Linked DNA regions of Homo sapiens. The protein of the gene in region 2 purifies or fractionates together with the protein of the main gene of each other region. This does not show direct contact. Each region holds a gene or a part of one and is shown on either strand. Other genes may lie near its edges.

Evidence for each region. Proteins that work in one complex are often made in the same cells at the same time.
Region 1: the proteins of ABCB9 (region 2) and DDX60L fractionate together in Homo sapiens (co-fractionation; one large-scale study listed by BioGRID). This does not show direct contact.

The regions. Positions count from the first base shown.
Region 1 is NC_000004.12:168,414,493-168,417,992, reverse strand, and holds part of DDX60L (probable ATP-dependent RNA helicase DDX60-like), read left to right. Parts: intron 1-1,195; coding exon 1,196-1,311; intron 1,312-2,193; coding exon 2,194-2,336; intron 2,337-2,475; coding exon 2,476-2,585; intron 2,586-3,500.
Region 2 is NC_000012.12:122,945,964-122,949,463, reverse strand, and holds part of ABCB9 (ABC-type oligopeptide transporter ABCB9), read left to right. Parts: intron 1-634; coding exon 635-840; intron 841-3,241; coding exon 3,242-3,439; intron 3,440-3,500. UniProt on the Homo sapiens protein: ATP-dependent low-affinity peptide transporter which translocates a broad spectrum of peptides from the cytosol to the lysosomal lumen for degradation.

The DNA.
Region 1 (3,500 bases), on a different chromosome or scaffold from region 2:
AGAAAGTTCAGAGAAATTGCCTGCTGATACAAAATATAAGATTAGCATTTGGTAAAGTGGGCGATTATCTGACTAGATCAAAGTCAGAAGGGATATGAAAATATTCTTCTTTATGTATTTATTACTAGCCTTGATTAGTAAGTCTTTCCAGCTGAGACCCAATTGTCACGATGTATTCTGTTTAAGACCAAAATTTGGACCTCCTCTCTAAGTCTTAATTTGCATTATTGAACCAAAGAGGATTGATTCATTCATTCAACAGATATTAATTGAGTACCTACTCTGTGCTAGACACTGTGCTTTCTCCCTGATATGCCAGTACTGACCTTGTGGTTTAGTGAAGGGGAGAGCAATTAAATAAGTAAATGTACCAATGAAAATATAAGTAAACATTGTGATACAAACTCTGAAGAAAAAAAAATCAGTTAGTTTTCACCAAGATAATAGCAAAATGGGAAGTAAGAACAACAACTTTGGAGCAGGTACTCAGGGAAGGTGTTTCTGAGGCAATGACCTTCAGCTGGGCTTTGCAGGGATAAGCAGGAATGGTCAGCTAAGAGGTGGATGAGGATTTTAAGTAGCAGGGTCGTATATGTGAAGGCCCTCAGGTGGAACACGTGTGTTCAAGGTATGAAAAGAAGGCCAGTATGTTGGGAGCAGAGTGCATGGCGGGGAAAGTGGCCTGAGATGGGGTTGGAAAGGTGGGAAGAAGCCAGACCATGCAGGAAGTTACACTTCCAGTTAAGCAGCTTGTGGTTTACTGTAAATGCATTGGGAGGACAGTGTAGGGATTTAATTAGGTATGTAGCCTAATTTGATTTTTGTTTAATAATACCATTAGGGCTATGATGTGAAGAAAGTATAGAGAAAGAGTGGAAGCTAAGAGAAAAATCAGAAGGCTGTTGTAGAAAGCCAGGTGATGGTGGCTTCAATGACAACAAAAAATGGAGAGAAAAACATAGCTTCAAAATAGATTTTTGGAATTGGAATCTGTAGGAATTAATAATGGTTTCGATATGGAGATTGGAGACAGTTAAGTGTCATGATGTCTATTGTCTGAATTTATCACCATTCACTTTATTTAGGTTAGGTCATTTATAGGAAACTGGAAAAATATGCATGATGATTTTATGCTTCTATTTTTTATTTACGATTTTGACATCAACTTTTCAACTGATTTTTTTTTCTTTACTAGGTCCATTATCTTGGCAGAGAAGTTGGAGCAAAATTTTGGGAGCTCCTCCTTGTCATTATTCGATGTCCCTTTTTGGTTCTTTCAGCTACCATAAATAACCCAAATCTTCTCACCAAGTAGGTATAGGTAAAAAGAGTGGTTGTTATATATTCAGTGGTTGAATTATATACTGTCTATATGGTCTGAAGTCTTTAAGGTTTTTTCTATGATAACTTTCAAATAAATTTATTACCCAATCTTTGAAACGTCAGTGGTCTTGCTTTGTTGCCCAGGCTGGCCTTAAACTCCTGGGCTGAAGGAATCCTCCCACCTCAGCCTCCTGAGTAGCTGGGACCACAGGTGTACATTACCATGTCTGGCTTTCTCAAATTTTTTTGAAGATATATTTCCTGGAAGTTAGAGAAGGAAAACATCTTCTCCAAAGAAAATCAAGGTCTCCCATAGCCAGATCTGAAATTGTGCAGGACAATTTCTAAAAATTTTCAAGTAAATGTCATCTGAAGTAAGAGAGAGAATTGTATCCCCCTTTCTTTGTCCTTATCCAATAATTAAAGCTAAAATGGAAATAACTGGGACACAGTCATTGACCTTGCAGATGACAATCATAAGAACAACAAAGCATTATATGAACGTCAAGTATTGTTTTGTTACCAGACTTGATTTTTCCTGGTAACAGCGACGATGGCAGTAACAGCAGCACTGGTAACAAGCACACAGTGCTTTCTATGTGGCAGGCACGCTAACTCATTCAAGCCACGCAACACCCTTATGAGAAAGATACTTTCGTTATCTTCTATGTTATGATGGAGAAAGGGAGGCATAGAGAAGCTGAGGAATTTGCCCAAAGTCCACAGCTCTGAAGTCAACTCAGGTGGTTTAAATTGAGAGGGCATGCTCTAAATTTTTAAACTTGTGAAATTTTCTTTGTTTAAAATATCCAAGTTCTTGATAAATACTTCTATATTTTATTTAAATTATATGCATGTTTATTCTGTAAGGTGGCTGCAATCAGTAAAACAGTACTGGAAACAGGCAGACAAGATTATGGAAGAGAAATGTATTTCTGAAAAACAGGCTGACAAATGTCTCAACTTTCTCCAAGACCATTCATATAAAAATCAATCATATGAAGTTAGACTTGGTAAGCTTATTTTTTTTATGTTTTACTATATATTTTTATATTTTACTACAAAGCTTTTTATAGGGATTTTTGTGTTTTAAATCCATATTCTAATAATCGTATGTCCATTAATTTGGATATTCTTGCTCTTCGTATCTAGTGCTCTGTGGAGAGAGATACAATGATTTAGAGAAGCATATATGTTCAGTAAAACATGATGATGTTTATTTTGATCATTTTCATCCCTGTGCTGCGCTAACGACAGATATTGTAAGTATAAAAGTGTATTTGTCCTGTTAGTGGAATTTTTAGTGTATATCGCAACTGGAAAGGGACTCAATCTTCATAGAACTGCAGCATGTATAGATAATCTTTTTCTTTCTTTACTGATTCTTTTATTTTATTCATTGATTTTTTAAATTTAATACATTTTTTATTTTTAATTTTGTGGGCATCTAAAGTAGCTGTATATATGGGGCACATGAGATATTTTGATACAGACATGCAATGCATAATAACCACGTCAGACTAAATGAGGTATGTATCCACTACCTCAAGCATTTATCCTTTAATGGATACACAATGGTAATTATGTATCCATTACCTCAAGCATAATAACCACATCAGACTAAATGAGGTATGTATCCATTACCTTAAGCACAATCCAATTCTACTCTTTTAGTTATTTTAAAATATACAATAAATTACTGTTAGCTATAATCCCTCTGTTGTGCTATCACATACTAGATCTTATTTATTCTATCTATTTTTTTGTGCTCATTAACCATTCCCTCTTCCACCCAACCCACTGTCTTTGCTAGCCTCTGGTAACCATCACTCTACTCTCTGTCTCCATGCATTCCATTGTTTTAATTTTTAGCTCCCACAGATAAGTTAGAACACGTGAAGTTTTTCTTTCTGTGCCTGGCTTATTTCACTTAACATAGTGACATCCAATTCCATCTATGTTGTTGCAAACGATAGGATCTTATTTTTTTTTATGGCTGAATGGTATTCCACTGTTTTTAAGTGCCACATTTTCTTTATTCATTAATTTGTTGATGGGCACTTAGGTTTCTTCCAAATCTTGGCTATTGTGAATGGCGCTGCAATAAACATGAGAGTCCGGATACCTCTTTGATATACTGATTTCCTTTTTTTTAAGTATATATGTAGCAGTGGTAT
Region 2 (3,500 bases):
TGCTCCCATGGGGGTCAGCAGGTGAGGGCCAGGGGCCACAACGGGGAAGACGATAGAATATCCACCAAGATCCAAGCTCTGAGAGACACCGGCCTGGGTCGAAGCCCTGGTTCCTCCACTCACGAACTTCACCTCTCTGATCCTCTGTTTTCTTGTCTGTAAAATGGGAACACGGATAGTAGCCACCCCATGGGGTCCTTACACAGCTCTTAGCACAATGTCCAACTTAGGTAAGAAGTGTCTGCGCTTTCCTGCCCGCCACCAGCCAGGTTGTTATTTCCCTAGAAGGGAAGAGGAGTTACCCCCTCTGCCAGTGACAGGGAGGAGACATGGGTTTGAAGTCTGGCTCAGTCACGGACAGGCTGTGTGACTCTACGGGGGCCTTCCTGTTCTGAGCCCCAGCCTCCTCCGCTGTACAGCGGGATGTCATGAAGCTTAAGCAAGATGCTGATGACTGGGATTGGCTCAGAGTAGCCCTCGAGGGGTATCTGCTCTTCTCCCCCACCCCCCAACCCCGCCCACAGGTAGGGAGGCCCGGCTTCCCAGTGTCTGTCTCAGAGGCCCCTTAGCATCCCCCACCGCCACCCCCAAGGCCCGGGTTGCTGTGGTGAGAGCTGAGCCGCGTGTGTTCCAGGGGACCTCATCTCCCGCCTGACCTCGGACACCACCATGGTCAGCGACCTGGTCTCCCAGAACATCAATGTCTTCCTGCGGAACACAGTCAAGGTCACGGGCGTGGTGGTCTTCATGTTCAGCCTCTCATGGCAGCTCTCCTTGGTCACCTTCATGGGCTTCCCCATCATCATGATGGTGTCCAACATCTACGGCAAGTACTACAAGGTAGGCCTGCCCTGTCTCTGCTGGGGACTGTGCACCCTGGCAGCCCCCAAACATCCCCTTAGGAGGGGCTCAGGGGGCCACTAAGGGCTAGTGAAGGACAGGTCTTGAGGCTGTGTTTGCATTCATTCATTCATTTCTTCGCTCATTCAATAAATAATTATTGACCACCTGCTATGTCCCAGGCACTGGGATACATCAGTGAAAAAGACAAGGCCCCTGCCTTCCTGGAACTTGTATCTAGTGTCAGAGACAGATACTAGGTACCAACAGCATAAAGAATGAGAATCCACAATACAGTAAAAGATGGTCAGTGCTAAGGAGAAACATGAAGTGAGCAGAGGGATTGGGAGCATTGGGTGTAGCTGCAATTTTAAATTGGATTTACTGGCTGGGCCCGGTGGCTCATGCCTGTAATCCCAGAACTTTGGGAGGCACAGGCAGGAGGACCACTTGAGCCTAGGAGTTCGAGACAAGATTGGACAATATAGCAAGACCCCATCTCTACAAAAAAAAATTTTTTTTAGTTAGCTGGGCTTGGTGGCGCATGCCTGTGGTCCCAGCTACCTGGGATGCTGAGGTGGAGGATCGCCTGAGCCCAGGAGGTCGAGGCTGTAGTGAGCAATGATCGTGCCACTATACTCTAGCCTGGGTGACACAGCAAGACCCTGTCTCTAAAATGAATGAATAAATACAAGTTAAATAGGTCTTGCTGAGAAGGGGACATCTGAATAAGGGTCTGAAGGAGGCGGGCATCTTGGGAGGTATGTGCTGAGCAGAGGGCACAGCCAGTGAAAAGGCCCTGGGTTGGAACGTGCCTGGTGTGTATGTGGGGGTGGTGCGGGCCCGCTGTGATGCCATCGCGGGCCCGCTGTGATGCCATCATGGGCAGGCTGCTGTCCCCTCTGGCCACCCCACGGCACTGCTTCTGCTTCCGAGCTAGGGCCGTGAGCCAGGTTTGACCTCACCCTCCTCCTGCTTCCTGAATGGGCGGGTGCCCCCGAGCCCTAAGGGACAGACAGGCTGGGTTCAGACAGGCAGGGCTGTGACCCTGTGACAGGTACAGGCAACCCCCTCACAGTCACCCAGGCCCACGTGGGGTACTTCTAGAGCAGGGGCTTGGATGCATGACGGCCTCCAGGTGGTGCCGGGTAAGTCATTGTCGCAGCTCCATTGGAGCCTTTGGTGTTGGTGACCTGAGACCAGGGTAGCAAAGGAAGCCATCTCCCACCCAGCCCCCGGTGAGGCCACTCCCCACAGTCTTCTCCAGCCACACAGGTAGGACCTCTTCCCGAAGTTCCTGGTCACGAGCCTCCCCACCGTCCTCACTGAGATGAGAAAGTAAATCTATTCTTTAGAGTCTGAGCCATTTCTGGCACGCTGCTCCCCACCCCTTGCTTCCGGCCTTCCCACCAGCCCCTGGGATGGAGCAAGAAACCCTGGAGCTCCCCCTCAGCCCCCACCTCTGTGTGCACTGCAGGCCCTGCCTTTTAGTTCAGCTAAGGGAGGCCTCAGGAAGGCTCTGTTTGGGTTTTCCACCCCATGCCTGAATGTGTTGTGTGTAGCCAGCGAGTCATCTCCACAAACCACACACACCGCCCATGGCCAAACATGACTCAGGCACCCTGCATGCTTCCTGCGGCTGGGGCGTGACACATGGTCATGGGACATGCCAGTGCATGCTCCTGTCCTGGACTCTCAGGCAGCCTTCCTGGCTGGCTTGAGAATCAGCATAGTGACTCCTGCAAAGTGTGAACAGCTCCACCCAGGGGCCTCTTCCAGGACTCTGGTGAACAGCAGCCTGATGGCCGCACACTTGGGACCACTTTTCAGCTCTGCCTGTGGTGACATGCACATGGTGTGGGCAGATTTCACAACCCATGGCCCCTGCCACCATGTAGAACTTGGCTGGGAGTTCTGGAATCTCTTTATCAACCCTCAGGCTCTAACATAATTTATGTTGATGATGTAAATGGTGCCCCTTTAATAGTTGGTGTTTCTTAAATAGTGTACAACCTGAACAACCGTCCAAGGCATCCCCTGCTCTTCCAGCACAGGGTCAGGTGTTGAGGCCCCTTTTCTGAAAGGATTACCAAAAACTGTCCAGTCATGAATAGCCTCTTTTGAATACTGGGGATGACTTAACGATCAGCACCGTGCCCTATCCTTCAGGAGCTGAAACCATTGCCCCAAGAGCCTCTCTGGAGTTGACTACCTGAGTGTGTCAAATTGAGCCAGAAGGGGATGGGGGAGAAAGGGCTAGATCTTGTCTTTTTGTCCTAGGAACCTCTTGCATATAGCTGGTGCCAGCGAAGGGTGGAAAAACCCAGAGAGGCCTGGGGGCTCCAGTACATAGTGAGGCTGTTTTGGGGTCTTCTCCTTCTTGTCCCCCTCCTGTCCATAGAGGCTCTCCAAAGAGGTCCAGAATGCCCTGGCCAGAGCGAGCAACACGGCGGAGGAGACCATCAGTGCCATGAAGACTGTCCGGAGCTTCGCCAATGAGGAGGAGGAGGCAGAGGTGTACCTGCGGAAGCTGCAGCAGGTGTACAAGCTGAACAGGAAGGAGGCAGCTGCCTACATGTACTACGTCTGGGGCAGCGGGGTACGTGCCCCTGGCCAGGCAGCTCTGGCTGTGGAGGGATGGGATGCAAAGATGGGGGAAG